Homo sapiens: one gene and its partners. The protein of the gene in region 1 interacts with the protein of each later gene in a biochemical or structural test. Each region holds a gene or a part of one and is shown in the gene's direction. Other genes may lie near its edges.

Region 1 (5,163 bases):
TCTCTATCCAGAGACTGGCACCATTCAGTCATAGCAGTGTGTTGCTGTTTTCCCCTTCCTCTACCCACAGGAAACATTTTCGGATCAGGCTGGGCCGCTGAGCCGAGTTTGGACCTCAGATGCCTTCATATACAACTCTAAGTGTACACTACCAATTGATCATAGTTGTCATAGGGGGCAAAACCTATATCTTAGGTTGGGTGGTACGTAGATTACTGGCATAGAGCCCTTGTTCCTGTTTCTTTCTTTCTTTCTTTTCTTTTTTTTGGCGGGGGTGGAGACAGTCTCGCTCTGTCACCCAGACTGGAGTGCAGTGGCATGATCTCAGCTCCTGGGTTCAAGTGATTCTCCTGCGTCAGCCTCCCGAGTAGCTGGGATTACAGGTGCACGCCACCACACCCAGCTAATTTTTGTATTTTTAGTAGAGACAGGGTTTCACCATGTTGGCCAGGCTGGCCTCGAACTCCTGGCCTCAGGTGATCTGCCTGCCTTGGCCTCCCAAAGTGCTGAGATTACAGGTGTGAGCCACCGCCTGGCCTATTGTTCCTGTTTCTTGAATTCACTTTGTGTAGGATGACTCTTTCTGCCATCTTGACCTCTGAATGTTTTACCTTTCAGTGAAGTGCAGCTTCTATTAAGTCCAATATTATTTTAATCTGAAAGATGGGATTGGTGTCATTGATGGCCATGTGGCCTCAATGGAAGTTATCATTATTTCCTTCTGGAGGCCAGTTTATCACACAACTGCCTTACCAGCAGCAGCACCCTTACTTCCCTTTCCACTTGTGCCCTCCTTGGAATGTGAACCAAGTTCCTGTTTCTGGCTGGGCTGATGTACCCTGCCGTTTGTGGATGATCACGACTTTCCCAACGTCATTTCATCAGTTGAGTCATTCCTCAGGCTCCCTTAATGGGCTGTGAACTTCCAGCATGCTCTCCCAGTTGCTTTGTAACATCAACATTCTTTATGGTTACACACATGATGACAAGAGTCAGTTTCCACAAAAGTAGGAGGATAATTGTTCCTAAGCCATCTTATCTGTGCAGAAAAAGCAAAGCTCGATCTTCCCATGATGGCAGCTATGCATTGGCAATACAGAAAACAGGAGTGCTGGCGATTGTGACAATGGAGTGGGTGCAACAATTACTTTATCTTTGGAGGATGACAGATGGTTAAAAAGGCTTTTTCAGCAGGTACCACTAGGCACCATTGTGAACAAAAGCTTGGCTAGTAGGGATACTGCAGAGCTCATTCCTCCCACTGTGCTTCCACAAGCATCCTTCCCTTTTCTAAACGAAGTCTTTGAAGTCATTGGAACCTCCCTTTTCCAGGCAGTATAGTTTTTCTGTAATGTACTGGGTCTTCACAGAAGTTCTTTCCTAGGGAAAGCATAGTACCAAGCAAGTACTTAATATACTGAATGAATTTTCCAGACAATTTTGGACACTTTATAGTTAAGAAAAAATGATATTTGGGCCAAGAGTGGTGGCTCATGGCTGTAATCCTAGCACTTTGGAAGGCTGAGGCAGGTGGATCACTTGAAGTCAGGAGTTCAAGACCAGCCTGGCCAATATGGTGAAACCCCATCTTTACTAAAAATACAAAAATTAGGTGGGCCTGGTGGCACGTGCCTGTAATTCCAGCTACTCGGGAGGCTGAGGCAGGAGAATCTCTTGAACTCAGGTAGCAGAGGTTGCAGTTAGCTGAGATCGCACCACTGCACTCCAGCCTGGGCAACAGAGCAAGACTCCGTCTCAAAAAAAAAAAAAGAGACATTTGGTCACAATTACCCAAGTTGTACTCAACAATCTAAATTCTCTAAATTCTTGATTAGACTTTCACATCACTTGTCTATATATGGATTGAAATATAGAGCATTCAATTTAAGTTTTCTCAAGTGTATTGTTTCTTGTATTATTTAGAAATATTCTTCACTGAAAACATTCTTGAAAGGACAACATACATTATTATCATTATTTTCCATCTGTATATTTTTTCTTAGCATAGTGTTATGATTATCTTAGTTTTTATGGCTACAAAGAATGGCTTTTGGAGGAGGGAGGGAAGTAAGTATTCATTATGTTATCTCATCAGTTTTATGTTTCTAAAGGAGGAACACTTTTGTTTGGATTTCTACAATATATACTTTTGCCTTTTGTAACTATATGTCATTTGTTTTTCAAGGTTAAAGCTTTTAACCTTGAAATGCTTACAATAGAGTATCAAAGCGACAGACTTTAACTTGTCATGTACTATATGAGATACTTACAAGGTGAAACTCCCTGTCAAGTATCCTACTCCTTTTATTTTTAATTTTGGTGACATTATAATGTGATTTAGTAGGAAAAACCTTTGATTTTTCTTCTCTTATCCTTCATGGAATTCCAATGATATCTTTTGTTACTATTTCCTTAGAAACTCTTAATGTCCTCACATACTCCTCAATATTATGTTTCAACCACGACTTGTGGGATTTCCATATGACTGCCCCAAAAATGAAACTGGCTTTTTTTCTTACAAGAGTGATTTAAAGTTTCATTTTTCTGCCAATATGATTTAAGCATGCAACAAAGTTAGTTTTTACTATTAGGGTTATTTTTGATTTGTAGAAGGCAGTTGATTTCTTCATTTTCCTGCTTGGGTGATAAAAATGCTTGATCCTTCAACCATGCAGGGAAACAGAAATACAATTTAACTGGGTTTGAATGCTGTCAGACATGTAAATTTAGGTATACATGCTTTTGAATTTTTTTAAGGATTGTCAGTGTCTTTGTCACATACTTAAACCAGTTATAGAAGCATTGCATGAAATAATTCTTGTTCATAAGTTCTGGAGTCCTAGCCAGAAGACATTTTTTAGGCTCAGAGCTGTTGACACACCATCTTGCTTCCCCCAGGCAAAAGTTTGATCTTTGGGTGCCACCGAGGTTCTCAGACACCTGGTGTGCTCCTTGGACTCTCCTTGCCATCAGTAAAAAAAAATTGTCATTTTGTAGAGTTTTATATATTCCTTGTTAGAAGATGTAAACAATACTGAAGCTTACAAAGAAGAAATTAAAAATAACCCTAAAACCATTCCAGAGAGAATCTTTGTGAATCCCCTTCCAGTCATCTCTATTACCAGCTGACTTTTAATAAATCTTTAGCAATGTTCTAGAAAATAATTAAGGAGCATTATGTTACAACTGTTTATGTAACTCCAAATTCTACAATCTTTATTTATACACAGGTAGTTACTTTATGACGTTGTAATTAGTCCATGCATAATTTTCTTTGGGTAATTCTGTCATGTTAGCATACGGTGGTATTTTGAGCCACTCCCCAGTTGTTGGACACTTAGATTTTTTTTTTCTTTTTTTTTGTTTTAGAGACAGAGTCTTGCTCTGTTGCTTAGGCTGGAGCACAGTGGTGCCATCACCATAGATTACTGCAGCCTCGAACTCCTGGGCTTAAATAGAAGGTTTGAGCTTCAGCCTCTGGCTTCAGCCTCCTGAGTAGCTAGGATTGCAGATGCATATGACTGCATCCAGCTCATTGAAACGAAAATTAAGCAGCGATGAGGCCTTGCTATGTTGGCCAGGTTGGTCTTGAACTCCTGGCCTCAAGTGATTCTCCCACCTCGGCCTCCCAAAGTTCTAGGATTACAGGTGTGAGCCACCACACCTGACTGATTTCTAGCTTTTATTCATCAGTTTTAGAAGGTCATAAAATAACTCACTAGCAATGTGAAGTTTCCATTTTTTCTCTTTTTTGACCTTTTAGAATTACAGTGTCTCTGTTATGTGAGGACAAGAAGAGCCAGAATGCTTGAGGCCATGTTATGTACCCAGTTATAGGTCAGATAAAACTAGAAGAACCTGACAGGTCATTTGCAGAGACTGTGTTCTTGTTGGTAATGTGTAGAGCCTCATTTCATCTTATTGGATGTCTATAGGAAAACTTTCCAAGGATCAGTAACAAAACATGGAAGAGTTGTTATGTAACTGTGCAATGACATTTGACCTCAGTACCTGGTCTAGAGTTTATGAAACTTTGTGTGACCCGGGAAGGCATCTTATGTCCTCAGGAAACTCCAGCCTTCCTATCCATTGTGCCATTTCTCTACTGCTTGAGTAATCATGGCCCAGTAAGGTGTGCAAGGCAACCAGCAATGTTAGAGAATTTTGCATTAATGTAGTTTCTTGATAAAGAACTACAGCAGAGTGAGCTCCTGTTCAGATTTTTCTTTTGACATCTTTCTTTTTTTTTTTTTTTTGAGACAAAGTCTCACTTTGTCACCCTGGCTGGAGTACAGTGGCATGATCTCGACTCACTGCAATCTTCACCTCCTGGGTTTAGGAGATTCTCATGCCTCAGCCTCCTGAATAACTGGGACTATAGGCATGTGCCACCACGCCCGGCTATTTTTTGTATTTTTAGTAGAGGTGAGCTTTTGCCACGTTGGCCAGGCTGGTCTCGAACTCCTGACCTCAAGTGATCTGCCAGCTTCAGCCTCCCAAAGTGCTGGGATTACAGGCATGAGCCACTGCGCCCAGCCCCTTTGTCATCTTTCTAGATATCATGGTCTAATGTTTAAAGCCTTGGGTGGATTTCTTTTTTCTTTTATTTTAGGTTTGGGGGTACATGTGAAGGTTTGTTACGTAGGCAAACATGAGTCACAGGGGTTTTTATACATATTGTTTCATTACCTTGCATGGATTTCTAAGTTAACTATTAACTGGAATTATTTTCCTGTGCTTCAGGTTTTGCATCTATTCAACAAACTATAATGACACATAATTAACAGTTCACTTGAGAAAGATTCATGGCCTAATACTTGTAAAGGACTTTGAGCTTCTCTGAGAGTGTTTTATACACAGTCATGAACAAGGAGATGGCTTGTTCTATTTGGCAAAGGGCAAGTATATTATGCCCATTTTATAGATGAGAAAAGAGAGCCTCATAGAAGATAATGGCTTGCTTAGACTCACGGTAAATTTAATGTAGTGTCTGTGGAATTTTCCTTGGACTTTGTGGAATGAATGAAATCTAAAATAAATTCTACATGAGTGTATGTGTAGGGAAGTAGGGAAAGTGGATTTATACTGTTTTAAGCAAATATAACATTTCGGAGGAGAGTCTTTCCCTTTGAAAGAGGGTAACCATGTCAGACAAATTCGCTA
Region 2 (4,332 bases), on another chromosome or scaffold:
GGCCTGGGCCAGCTTGGGCAAGCCAAGATCAGATGTCTCTGTGTTCGGGAAGGTCTCCGTGTGGGAAAGCCCTTGGGGGATCCCGGGTGAGGAGTGTTGCCCCATCCAGAGAATGAATGAGTTCCTTTAAGTGCCACCGCCAGCAAGCCCAGAGGCACACAGTCCGAGTGCACCCGCTTAGCCTTTACATTCCTCTCCACCGACAAAAGGAAGGGGAAACTCAATCAGCAGGACTTCAGAAAGGGCCTTGTGTTTATAGCTTTGTCAAGTAAATTTGGACGCAGCTGGAGCACAGGCCCTGTTTGTTTGCACATAATAATCTTGTTTATCACTTTAAAAAATTCAGTAATATCTCAGCAGTCAGGCTTCTGGTTGTGAAATCACATTGTATGGGATTTATACCAAATTATGTATTTGCTAAACATTCACTGCACACGTGTACAGCGGAGTACGAAAAGGAACGTTGTCCACAGGGGATTTATGGATACAACAGCAAACATTTTATAAACTATGCACATGCATTACACACATGCACACACATATGCACACACATGTGCAAACATAGCCACTTTTTTGTCAAGAGTTACCCTTTGGGGCTCCTTAAACCAGAATGGGAGTTTGAAAGAGAGATCATACTCCAGCTGAAGTTTGTTGACCCTTTTCTAAAATTAAAAAGATCAAATTTAGTATTTGCTGGATATGCAGGGAGATGAGACTCTTTTAATCTCAAAATAAACAGATTCTTTCAAGAACGAAGCTGTGGCCTCTGTCTTTTGAGCGCTTATGACCACAGCACGGGCTCAGTCCCTCCCAGACCCACTCGCTGTCTGGGGATAATGGGCAGCCCCTCCTTGCCCACTGTGCCAACATGCAGGTGGCCCCTGAGCAGCTTCCATGGGTGGAGACGCTGCTCTGTCAGTCACAGGCTTGGAAAAAGCGAGTCCCCCCACTCTTTTTTTTTTTTTTTTTTTTTTTTTTACCAACCTGGGCACCAAGTCCCAGGGGGCTGAGGGTCTGTGCTTCCTGTCTACCTCCCTGCCATTCTCTCACCCTCATCCCACAGCAGGGTCTCAGGAGTCCCACTCTCCCTCTCCTCTCATTCCAGTGCCCCACAACTGCCCAGTTAACCCCCAGATGCAAGCCAGATTCCATCTGCCCCAGGCCCCAAGCTTTTGCTTTGGCATCACGCGAGGCCAGGCTGCTTTGCAGGCACCAAAATTCACCCTCTCCTACTCCTGGAAAAGCCCAGCCCCAGGCCTCACAGAGCCAGGGGAGGGGATCTCATCACATCACAGTTAGAAATCATACAGGCCTAAAGTCCCAGCTACCCAGGAGCCAAGGCAGGAGGAACCCTTGAGCCTGGGAGTTGGAGGTTACAGTGAGCTATGATCACACCAGCTTTCTAGCCTGGGTGACAGAGCAAGACCCAACTCTTAAAAAAAAAAAAAAAATACAGGAAATGACTAATGAACTTGACTCCATGAAATTGAAACTTACGTGGAAAATTAGTCCAAAGCCTAAAAGACTAGCAACTGAGAAAAAAAAACATTGCAACACAAATGAGAGACAAAGACCTCACTTATCTTCATTACAGAGAGTTCGTAATGTCAATAAGAAACAGAAAACCGGAAAGGCAAACAGGTTAAGGGCATGGGCAGCAATTGAATTACAAAGAAACAGACAGACCCTTAAACATCAATGCTTGACCTCACCCAACAGCAGGGAAACAGTCTCCACAACAGTAAAATGTTGCTGGGATGGGCCCAGCATTCAGCATGGTCCCTGCAACTTTGGCCTCTGCCCAGTGACCTCTGGCGGGTGTAGAAGAGCTCATGCTTCAGTGAGGGGGTGGGGGGCACCCTGAGGACCCTGTCAACATCAGCTGGACCACAGGCATCTCAGATAGATGTCACTTACCACCCTCATGTTGGCAGAGGGTGGTAACCAGCCAGCATCTCCTTCTTAAACACCTACTAAGTGTCAGGCACTGTGACCGGAGACACAGTCAAGAATCTCTGTGTTTTTTTTGTTTTGTTTTGTTTTTGTTTTTTGAGACGGAGTCTCGCTCTGTTGCCCAGGCTGGAGTGCAATGGCGCGATCTCAGCTCACTGCCACCTCCGCCTCCCAGGTTCAAGCAATTCTCCTGCCTCAGCCTCCCGAGTAGCTGCGATTACAGGCGTGCACCACAATGCCTGGATAATTTTTGTATTTTCAGTAGAAACGGGGTTTCACCATGTTGGCCAGGATGGTCTTGAACTCCTGAGCTCAGGTGATCCGCCCGCCTCATCCTCCCAAAGTGCTGGGATTACAGGTGTGAGCTACCTGCGCTGGCCGAATCTCTGCTTTTAGGAGCTCACTCCTCATAGGTAGAGTTGACAATAAGCACACAAACAAGTGAGATAGCAGGGCAGCCGGACCACCCAGTTGGGCAATTCGTGGCTTGGCCTAGGAACGTTACATTTGACTGAGGCTGGCGAGGCCTGCAGCCTGCACCAGGAGGTACAATGTGAGACTGAGGAATGGGAAGAAGGCATTCCATGGAGCTCTGAGGGCACTGGGTGCAAGGGCCTTGCACATGCAAAGACCCTGTTGTGGGTTCAAGCCACTGTGTGGGAGGGACAGGAGAGCCTGGCGTGGCTGCGGCCTTGAAGGAGGGGACTGTGCACACAGAATTGCAAGTGGGGGTCTCCGCGGAAGCTCCTGGCAGTTTTAAGCAGGATTATTAGATGATTCAGTCAACTTTACAACTCACTTTGCTGAATGGAGGGTGGATTAACGAGGGGGTAGTTGGAGGCTACCCCTTGGAGGGCATTCTGGACTTATCTACCAAAATTTCAAATGCACATACCCTCTGACCCAGCAGTTCCACTTAAGTATTTGGTCCTGAAATCTTGGTAAAAGTGCCCAAAGATACAGAACAAGGATGTTCACTATAGCATCTCTTAGAATATGGCCCCAAACAGGAAGCAACCCCAACCTCTATCATGAGGGAGGTCATAAAATTCCTGCACATGCAACAGTGCCATCCTCTGCAGCCTGTCAAAGAGGCAGGCAGCACTAACTGCTGGACTGGAATGTTCTCCAAGATATAATAAATGCATTTGTTTGAAAGCAGCTTGCAGCACAGTGCGTCAGGCCTCTGAGCCCAAGCCAAGCCATCGCATCCCCTGTGACTTGCACGTATATGCCTAGATGGCCTGAAGTAACTGAAGAATCACAAAAGAAGTGAATATGCCCTGCCCCGCCTTAACTGATGACATTCCACCACAAAAGAAGTGAAAAAGGCCGGTCCTTGACTTAACTGATGACATTATCTTATGAAATTCCTTCTCCTGGCTCATCCTGGCTCAAAAAGCTCCCCCACTGAGCACGTTGCCACCCCCACTCCTGCCCGCCAGAGAACAAACCCCCTTTTTCCTTTACCTACCCAAATCTTATAAAACGGCCTCACGCCTATCTCCCTTCACTGACTCCCTTTTCGGACTCAGCCCACCTGCGCCCAGGTGAAATAAACAGCCTTGTTGCTCACACAAAGCCTGTTTGGTGGTCTCTTCACATGGACGTGCATTAAATTTGGTGCCGTAACTGGCGCGGGGGGAGGGGGGGGGGAACCTCCCTTGGGAGATCAATCCCCTGTCCTCCTGCTCTTTGGTCCATGAGAAAGATCCACCTACAACCTCAAGTCCTCAGACCAACCAGCCCAAGAAACATCTCACCAATTTCAAATCCAGTAAGCAGCCTCTTTTTACTCTCTTCTCCAACCTCCCTCACTATCCCTCAACCTCTTTCTCCTTTCAATCTTGGCGCCACACTTCAATTTCTCCCTTCTCTTAACTTCAATTCCTTTCATTTTCTGGTAGAGATAAAGGAGACACGTTTTATCCGTGGACCCAAAACTCCAGCGCCGGTCACGGACTGGGAAGGCAGCCTTCCCTTGGTGTTTAATCATTGCAGGGACACCTCTCTGATTATTCACCCAGGTTTCAGAGGTGTCAGACCACGCAGGGACGCCTGCCTTGGTCCTTCACCCTTAGCGGCAAGTCCCGCTTTTCTGGGGAATGGGCAAGGACCCCAACCCCTTCTCTCCGTGTCTCTACCCCTTCTCCGCCTTTCTGGGGGGCAAGAAACCCCCAACCCCTTCTCCTTCACCCTGAGCGGCAAGTCCCGCTTTTCTAGAGGAGGAGCAAGTACTCCAACCTCATATCTCTGCGCCCCAATCCCTTATTTCTGTGCCCCAACCTCTTATCTCTGTGCCCCAATCCCTTATTTCCATGCCCCCACCTCTTATATCTCTGCACCTTGATCCCTTATTTCCACATCCCGACCTCGTAT
Region 3 (4,332 bases), on another chromosome or scaffold:
TGACAAAGCAGATGCATTCATAGTAGCCAAAACCTGGAAACAGCCCAAATGTGTATTCACTGTTGAATCCTAGGTAAAATGTGGTGTATCTTTACAATAACTACTGATAATTTTTTAAAATTCTAACTATGACACATGCAACTAAGTGAATGAATCTTCAGAACATTACATTGAGTGCAATATGTTAGGAGTGAAAAAGTACTTACTGTTTGTTTCATTTTATTTACATGCAATGGGTAAAAAGACAAACTTAATCTGTAGTTAACAGAAAGTTGATCAGAAGGTACGTGAGTCTGGTCAAAGGAGCTGAGTTGACTGGGAAGTACCACAGAAGGACATTTTGGGATCACAGAAATTTTCTTTATCTTGATTGTGGTGTTGGTTATGTGGATGTATACATTTGTTAAAAATGCATTAAACTGTATCTCAAATGGGTACATTTTAATGTAAATTTTACTTCAGACATTTTATTTAAACATTTATCAGTTTTTCTCAGTTTCAAATGACTAGTTACTGGAAGCAATGACAAGTGCTACTCAATGACTGCTAAATTTATTGGTGCTATGAATGCCAGATTTTTAGCACAGCAAAATCTACAAATTCCAGGATTTTTAGGTAGTATCTGGGCAAGAATATATATGAATAATGTATATGAAAGGAAGAGGGGGTTCTTAGATATCTTCAAGTCAGTGGAATGCTTAGGTTTCACAGTGCCAATCTGGTGTGACATTTACTTTGTTAAAGGAATTTACTCTAAAACAAATTAAATGAGCCCAGATGCATTTCTTTAAATTTTATTTTGAATTCATCATTTGTCAAAATATGGTTATCAATAATGCATGCTTATAATATGAAGAATGCTTTATCCATGTCTTATTTTTCATATTACATAACATTCTTATTCTTTTAACAGGTCCAGGAGAGCCTCAGATTATTTTTTGTAGAAGTGAAGCTGCACATCAAGGAGTAATTACCTGGAATCCCCCTCAAAGATCATTTCATAATTTTACCCTCTGTTATATAAAAGAGACAGGTAATTTGTGTAGAATTTAATTTCATCAGAAAAGAGAAATCAAGAATTTGAAAGTACTAGAAATTTTTATTGAGCCAGTGAGTCACAAAGCTCTCTGCTTAGAGACTGCATAGGCATAGTATACTCCCTGATCTTAGAATTGCTTCCACTCATTCAAAGCTTTCCAGCCCCAGAAATGACTAAAATCCAGAACATTCTAAATATTTGCTTGTCCTTCTTGGTCTTAGTTTAAATCTTTGTGCTCCAAAGCCTAGAGACAGAAAACCTCTGGATGACAACACTCATTTCTGTCTTGCAAGTATTATGTAAGTGATTTGACTCACTTTGAACTCATCATTCAGCCTCCTAAACAAACCAACAAACAAGCAAACCCCTTGTAAAACTTGTTTCAGCTAATAATACAGACAAAATGTTGGGTGAATAAAAATGAACATGGGCCCATGTAGCCGCTGGGGCCAGTTTGGTGTAATCTTGGGAGCATAGTTCTAAGTTTAGAATTAGACTTCTGCAGAAGTAATGCAATTAAAAAAAAAAAGAAGAAGAAAGAAATGTGCTATGACTAGTTCACTCATGAAATGTTCAAATGAGATGCTATTTAAGAGAACAAATATCTTCTGGACAATTTAAAGTATCTAAATTGTTTGTAGAAAGTAACATCAGTGGAGTATCTCAGAGCAGCCTCAATGCCTGGGATAGCCCTTTCTCTATTCTTTTATCCATAGGTTAAAATAGGAATGAAGTGAACCTCATAGAATTCTGTCACTCTGTGCTGTGGGGAAGGAACCAGACATACACTTCAAAACTTGAAAAGTGAAAGGCTATTTTTCTTCATTATGTTATTTTATATTTTAATGGCCTTTTCTTGCTAGTGTCTTTAGGTCTTAATAATCAGACTACTAAAGCAAAGTTAAATATGCATGTAGTTTTCAAATTAACATTCAAAGGCCAAGGAAAATAAATATATACTATATATTTGAGGTTATGATAAATTTAAAAGTTAAGTCTATGTGGAAGGAAAAATGGAAATTCCAGGAAGATAAAACAGCAGAGGTACTGTCTGCCTCATTGGACACCTCTTTTACAAACACTTTGTGTAGCTTCTATGGGAACACATTGTTCATTTTTTTTTTCTCTTCTCTGAATCTTCTATTCACTATCCCTTTCTGCATTCCTCAATGTCTACACTCTCTCTACTAGAGAGTATTGTCGATGTCAGAGTATATGGTAGACATTTTATGCATTTATGGCTCTTTTATATTTTTACAGTTTTTTTAAACTGTATTTCCACTGTATTTGCATAATTAGGGTAAAAAGGATGTAATGAGTTAGTAGCAACTCATTACAGCAACTAGCATGGGTCCTTCTTATTGGGCAACTAAATAGTGTTACCCAAATTTAACAGCTGTCCACATAGAACACTTAAACGGGATTGAATGGCTGAGAAGGGGAGGCTAGCTATCAGGCTGTGTGTTTTCTTTTCTCCAAAGCTGCCGATTGGTGACTGAATGCAGCTTTGGACCATGCCCTGACACTGCATAAAGGGCTCTTTGGAGCCAGCTCTACTCTAAACAGCGTGCTCCGCTTTTGTTTTCTCCTTCATCTCAAACATATACCTGTCTCCTCTCCCATGTTACCTAAGGCAAAGAGAGTTGATAGGATTATAGTATCGTTAAGGCAACTTAACTTTTCTCACCATTTTAAATAAAATTACTATTAAAAATCCACAGGAAGAAAGTCTATGAAATTTGCAGTTTACTTTTTAATCAGATATTAAATTTCACTTCATTACTTCACAATTTAATTTTTTCAGTGTCTCTAAAAGAGAGGGATTAAAAGAGGAGAAAAAATGCAATTGACATTAATTTAGTTTTATTGGTTTAGCAGGTTTTTTTAATTATGTATTATTTAAAGATTTTATCAACTATTTTAATAACTCAGTGGAGATGTGCATACATATCTTCATAGTTCATATGATGAAACTGAGGTTAACAGAAAATGTGATAGATGTTCAAGTTCAGTAGCTTGATCTGTTTCCTTTCTGCTCTTGGTTTTGTTTGTTTGTTTGTTTGAGAGGGAGTCTCCCTCTGTCGCCCAGGCTGGAGTGCAGTCATGCGATCTCGGCTCACTGCAAGCTCCGCCTCCCAGGTTCACGCCATTCTCCCGCCTCAGCCTCCCTAGTAGCTGGGACTACAGGCGCCCGCCACCACGCCCGGCTAATTTTTTTGTATTTTTAGTAGAGACGGGGTTTCACTGTGTTAGCCAGGATAGTCTGGATCTCCTGATCTCGTGTGATCCGATCCGCCCGCCTCGGCCTCCCAAAGTGTGTTTGTTTATTTTTCCTCACATTTTTAGCTTAAGATATTTTGGAGAACTGCAGTTTTATCTCGTTAACTTAATGATGGCAAGTGACAGTGAAGCTTCTTGGTAATTGGGGAATTGGGGAAGAGATCTTTTGTGCTTTATTGGATTTAAAGGATTATTTTTCAAAAGTTACTGAAAGCAATAGGCACCTTTCAAGACCACCATGATGTTGCTGGAAATTATTTTGTGTAATGCCTTTTATTTTTTTAAGAAAAAAAAAACAGAACAAATTGCTTAATCTCTCTGTGGCTCAGTTTTGTCATCTGTAAAATCAGATGATAGTGAGTACCAACTAATAGTTGCAGTGATGGTTAAATTAATTATTTCATGTATACCCCTTGAAACAGTGCTTGGCACATACAGTGAGTTATTATTTTTAAAAATCGTTATTGATATTATTATTACTGTTGCTGCTATCCAGAAACATGTTGCCACTCTAATCATCCTCTTTCCTGATGTCACTTGGCTACTCAAAAATAGCAGCAGCTGGTGATTTTTTTACTTAACAAGTGCTAAGTCTTCTGCCTGAGTGTGAAAACACACTTAGACACTGTCCTACCTCTCATATGCCTCCCCAGCCAGAGCTGTTGTCCTGATCAGGTTTGTCACTAAACTCAAAAACATTCCTTCTTCCGTTTGTAATATTTTCTTTTCTCCCTTACATGTATTCAGTTCCACTTACCTTTCAATGAACAGCTGAATTCCACTTCCGGCATGAAACTCCCTCATTCTCACAGCTCCCGTTAATTACTGTAGTGTCCAAATTACTATGATAGAATCAACCCAATGACTGATGATCAAATGGATTCTGCATCTAACATTCAAAACAGTAGCTAATACCGATGTTCAAAGTTTGGAGGTTACATATCAGAAAAGGTTTTCTAAAAAAGAATCATTCTGAAACATGCAACTCAAGACTTACAGTATACACTGGGGGC
Region 4 (4,332 bases), on another chromosome or scaffold:
TATATTTGTGAGTTCTACTAAAGAGGAAAGGAGACCCCTTTTGGAGTTTTTTTGTTCTGTTTTGTTTTTGTTTTTTAGTTTTCTCATGTTTTATCCTAATGGGTTTTGAAAGCATGATCATTTAAAATACTGTTGGAATGGGCCCATCAGTGATGTGATCTTTCACCTGTGAAAAGACAAGGGCTACTTTTGTGGCTGTATCTCCCCTATCCAGACAGGTAGGAGACCCAGCCTCTGTGGCTTTATGCCGGACGCTCATTTCCTGCCCACAGAGTTTCTCTGCCCTTCAGGATAACTCAGAGTTTGCCAGCCATTGTTGGGTCTATCCAAGGGTGTGTAGTTCACAACTGCTTCCTTCCTTTTTCCCTAGAAGGGTAAAGGTTACCCCATAAGCTAAGGGGAAAATGCCCAGCCCAGAGAGAAAAGCTAAGCAGAGCGAGCCTCTTGGATCCTGAGGGTCTAGCAGAGGGCTTATAATATCTCTTCCTATTGCCAGTGCCCCAGTTGCGCAGCTCTCTGCGTCTTTTCTCAAATCATCACCCAATCCGTTTGCCTTTTATAGAAAGTGATGGTAATGATGTGTGTAGAGTGACAGACTTCAGTTTTTACATAGAAAGACGGGATGTAGGCAGTGGGATCAGGCCAACATCAGCCTTGGGCAGCGTTTTCAGTGGGGAAGCCTCCTCATTAGAAGAGCCGGCAGCAGCTGTGTGACTGCCTCAGGCTGAAGAGAGTCCTGGGAGGGTTGGATGTCTTGTTCTCTCCTACTGGATTTCTACCATAATAATAATAAACAGATTTATTTTTCTAGTAGTTCTCATTTGACTAGACATGGATGAGGTAAATTTTCAGGAAAGGCACAACAGTGTAATGGATTTTTATGGGTAAAATGGCTATCATAAAAGCTTTAAGCTAAAACTTTAAAGGGGTTTGATAACGAGGGTACATTAAGACTTTGGTTTGCAATTATTTACTTAGGAAGGATGGAAATGTTTGCAAGTTTGAATTTGGCTAAAAGCCCTTCTTAATTGTAAAAGAATCACTTTTAGATGTTCACAAGCTGAGCTTTAGCAAATACCTTTACTGGTTCTTGAGTTGCCTCTATCTTAGTTTTCCCACCATTGTACTTTACAGCACAATTTACAATATGTCCCCACCCCCAAAAGAGCATTTCCTTTCTCAATTGTCACAAAGCTGCTGAGAAGAAGCTTATTTTTAACTTGGAAATGTGTTTTGTTTTAATAGTTTTAGCCTGAGAGCAATTATCTTACACACTTTATAGGTGCCTAATGCGGTCTTAAATCATGACTGACCAAGGTTTATCAATAAATCCATTGATAACATACCAGAAATGAGTCTGCAATAACAAAATGAGTCTGTTATTTGCTTAACATCAACCATCAGGGGGAAAAATTTAATCCTAAAAATGAGATATAAAACAATACCAATGAAGATAATTAGGAAAAATTGTTACAATACTGATTTTGGGCCCTCTCTGGTTCCGTTTTTATCTATTTCTAAAAGAAACAACATAACACATGTATTAAATATTACATAATTTTTAAAAGGCTGAGTGTGTCAACTAACCAGCCTGGTATACATCAAATAGTGACCATATTTAAAGAACAAGGAAAAATCTTCAGTCATTAATAAATGTGAACTAATAGGTAAAAAGAAGTAGATTCACTTTTCATTTGTTAGTGCCTGGTGCATAGGAGGTGCTTTATTAAGAAATAATTAATGAAACCTGGGCAGCATAACAAGACCCCGTCTCTACAGAAATTTAAAAATTAGCTGGGTGAGGTGGCGCACACCTGTAGTCCTGTCTACTAGAGAGGCTGAGGCGGGAGGATTGCTTGAGCCCAGGAGTTTGAGGCTGCAGTGAGCTAGGACTATGCCACTGCACTGCAGACTGGGCAAGAGTGAGACCCCCATCTCTAAAAGTAAATAAGTAAATAATGAATGAATGAATGAATGAATGAATTATTGGCAGATATGTGTTCCAAAACCATCTATATGTTTCATATTATGCTAGCTGCTGAATGCAACTGGGCAAACACTGGATACCAAATGAGGTATTTTTACTGTGCAACTTTTGTCTCTGGGTGGGGAATACCATAGCAACCAGAATGTAGTGCACGCAGCCAGTGCACAGAGCAAGGCGTATAATGGCTGGACCTTGGCTTATAGAGCACATGAAGGAGTTTGATAAGAGCTCAGTCCGAAGGCTGATGAAGAGTTACAATCAGAGTTATGAGCAAGTAAAAGTCTGGGCCCAACGTGTTTCTACTCCTACCCTAAAGAGCCCTAGAAGATGAATTCACTTCAGAATGGCCCAAAAAGGGCCAGGTCCAATGGCTCATGCTTGTAATCCTAGCACTTTGGGAGGCCAAGGCAGGAGGATCACTTGAGCCCAGGAGTTTGAGACCAGCTGGGCAACGTAGTGAGACCCTGTCTCTAGAAAAAAAAAAAATAGCCAAGCATGGTGGCCCACGCCTGTGATCCCAGCTACTCAGGAGGCTAATGTGGGAGGATTGCTTGAGCTCAAGAGGTTGAGGCTGCAGTGAGCCATGATCACGCCACTGCACTCCAGCCTGAACAACAGAGCCAGACTCTGTCTGAAAAAGAAAAGAAAAGAAAGAAGGAAGAAAGGAAGGGAGGGAAAGAAAAAGAAAGAAAGAGAGAGAGAGAGAAAGAGAGAAAGAAAGAAAGAAAGAAAGAAAGAAAGAAAGAAAGAAAGAAAGAAAGAAAGAAAGAGAAAGAAAGAGAAGGAAGGAAGCAGAGAAAGGAAAGAAAGAAAGAAAGAAAGAAAGAAAGAAAGAAAGAAAGAAAGAAAGAAAGAAAGAAAAGAAAGAAAGAACGGAAGGACTCGAAAAGCCCCTTTATTCCTACCAAGCTGCATCTGCTCTTTGTCCCATCTTTGGATCTCCTGAAAACAACTTGTTTCATTAACATGTCATGTAGTTTTAATGTTTGTTCCAGATGCTCTGAAATTTGTGACCCTTTTCCCTTTAGTGAAAATTAAATTTTTACTAAATTGTGGGAAAATGAAAGAATTTCAGACTATTTAAGGATATACATTTTGTTTGTTCGTTTTCCATATATGTGAAAAATTATAATATATTGGGTTTTTTTAAAAGTTCTATGTTGTCCTTGTAGGTTTTCCCAAATAGTGCACCCCTTGAAGGAGGGACAAGGCTGACCATATGTGGCTGGGACTTTGGATTTCGGAGGAATAATAAATTTGATTTAAAGAAAACTAGAGTTCTCCTTGGAAATGAGAGCTGCACCTTGACTTTAAGTGAGAGCACGATGAATACGTAAGGATCTTAAAATGCTTTGCTGGGGTGTGCTTGGAAAATAGGTTTTGTTTTTGAATGAATATTTCTTTTAAAATTGCTCAAGAAGCTCATCTCTTGAATTAAAAAGGGTCTTGGCCTGTCACATGCCTTGTGGGTCTGTTCTGTTTTGTTCTTGTAATCCCATTTACTCATTGGATTTGAAGAGAGAGAAAGGTGACATGGCCTAGGTGAAGAGAAGAGGCCAGAAATGGGAGTTTCTCAACCATTTATGCGACAAGTCTTCAGGTGTTGTCTGAGTAGATTTGCAAGAGTAGCACTAGTTGGGATCACTTCATCCTTGGAGTCTTCAAATGTAGAGTCTCCAAAGGCTTTTTCTACAGAAATCAGTAAACAGCTCAGCATGGATCCTCTCTTTTAAATTCACTTTCTAAACCTCAGAAATGTAGTGAGGCAGCTGAATCACGTGTTTGAGACTTTTTTAGATGAGTTAAAATTTATATTCAGCTTATATTTACTGGCACTGCAATATATGGGCTGTATCTCACTGAACCATCCCCACGGTCCTGGGAGGGAGCAGTATCATTCCTATAATATAAAAGAGGTACCTGAAGTTCAGAGAGATGAAGTGTGGCTTCACAGAGGTAATCCAGAGAGTAAGAGCTGAACAAGCCTTCAGCTCAGCTCTGATCATCTTCTGATCCAAGACCCGTGCTAGTTCTACTGTATTCTACATGTACCCTTCTACAAGCTTTGAATTCCATAATCATCAGAGAATCCAGAAATTATTCATTATCACATAATAACAACACTCAAATATTTAAAGTTTTATGGTTGAATCTTTATGATTGAACCCATTCTATCAGGTGGTTATTTTATATCTAATAGAATTCATTTCAGGGTTACACAAAGGTCCGAATCTATCCATTTTACTGAGACCAAAACACTAATGAAGGTAATATTTGTTAGCTGAATGGCAAAACAAATTTTTTCTAGAAATCTCCCTTGTAAAATCTCCAAAACTCTTAATCAT

Evidence for each region. Proteins that work in one complex are often made in the same cells at the same time.
Region 2: the proteins of TEC (region 1) and LRRK1 form a complex in vitro, tested with the Homo sapiens proteins (one large-scale study listed by BioGRID).
Region 3: of the proteins of TEC (region 1) and PTPRC, one has a biochemical effect on the other in vitro, tested with the Homo sapiens proteins (one large-scale study listed by IntAct).
Region 4: the proteins of TEC (region 1) and MET form a complex in vitro, tested with the Homo sapiens proteins (one large-scale study listed by BioGRID and IntAct).

What each region holds. Positions count from the first base shown.
Region 1 is NC_000004.12:48,258,809-48,263,971, reverse strand, and holds part of TEC (tyrosine-protein kinase Tec), read left to right. Parts: intron 1-5,163.
Region 2 is NC_000015.10:101,069,357-101,073,688, forward strand, and holds part of LRRK1 (leucine-rich repeat serine/threonine-protein kinase 1), read left to right. Parts: 3' UTR 1-4,332.
Region 3 is NC_000001.11:198,712,040-198,716,371, forward strand, and holds part of PTPRC (receptor-type tyrosine-protein phosphatase C isoform 1 precursor), read left to right. Parts: intron 1-913; coding exon 914-1,033; intron 1,034-4,332. UniProt on the Homo sapiens protein: Protein tyrosine-protein phosphatase required for T-cell activation through the antigen receptor. Acts as a positive regulator of T-cell coactivation upon binding to DPP4.
Region 4 is NC_000007.14:116,752,196-116,756,527, forward strand, and holds part of MET (hepatocyte growth factor receptor isoform b preproprotein), read left to right. Parts: intron 1-3,159; coding exon 3,160-3,320; intron 3,321-4,332. UniProt on the Homo sapiens protein: Receptor tyrosine kinase that transduces signals from the extracellular matrix into the cytoplasm by binding to hepatocyte growth factor/HGF ligand. Regulates many physiological processes including proliferation, scattering, morphogenesis and survival.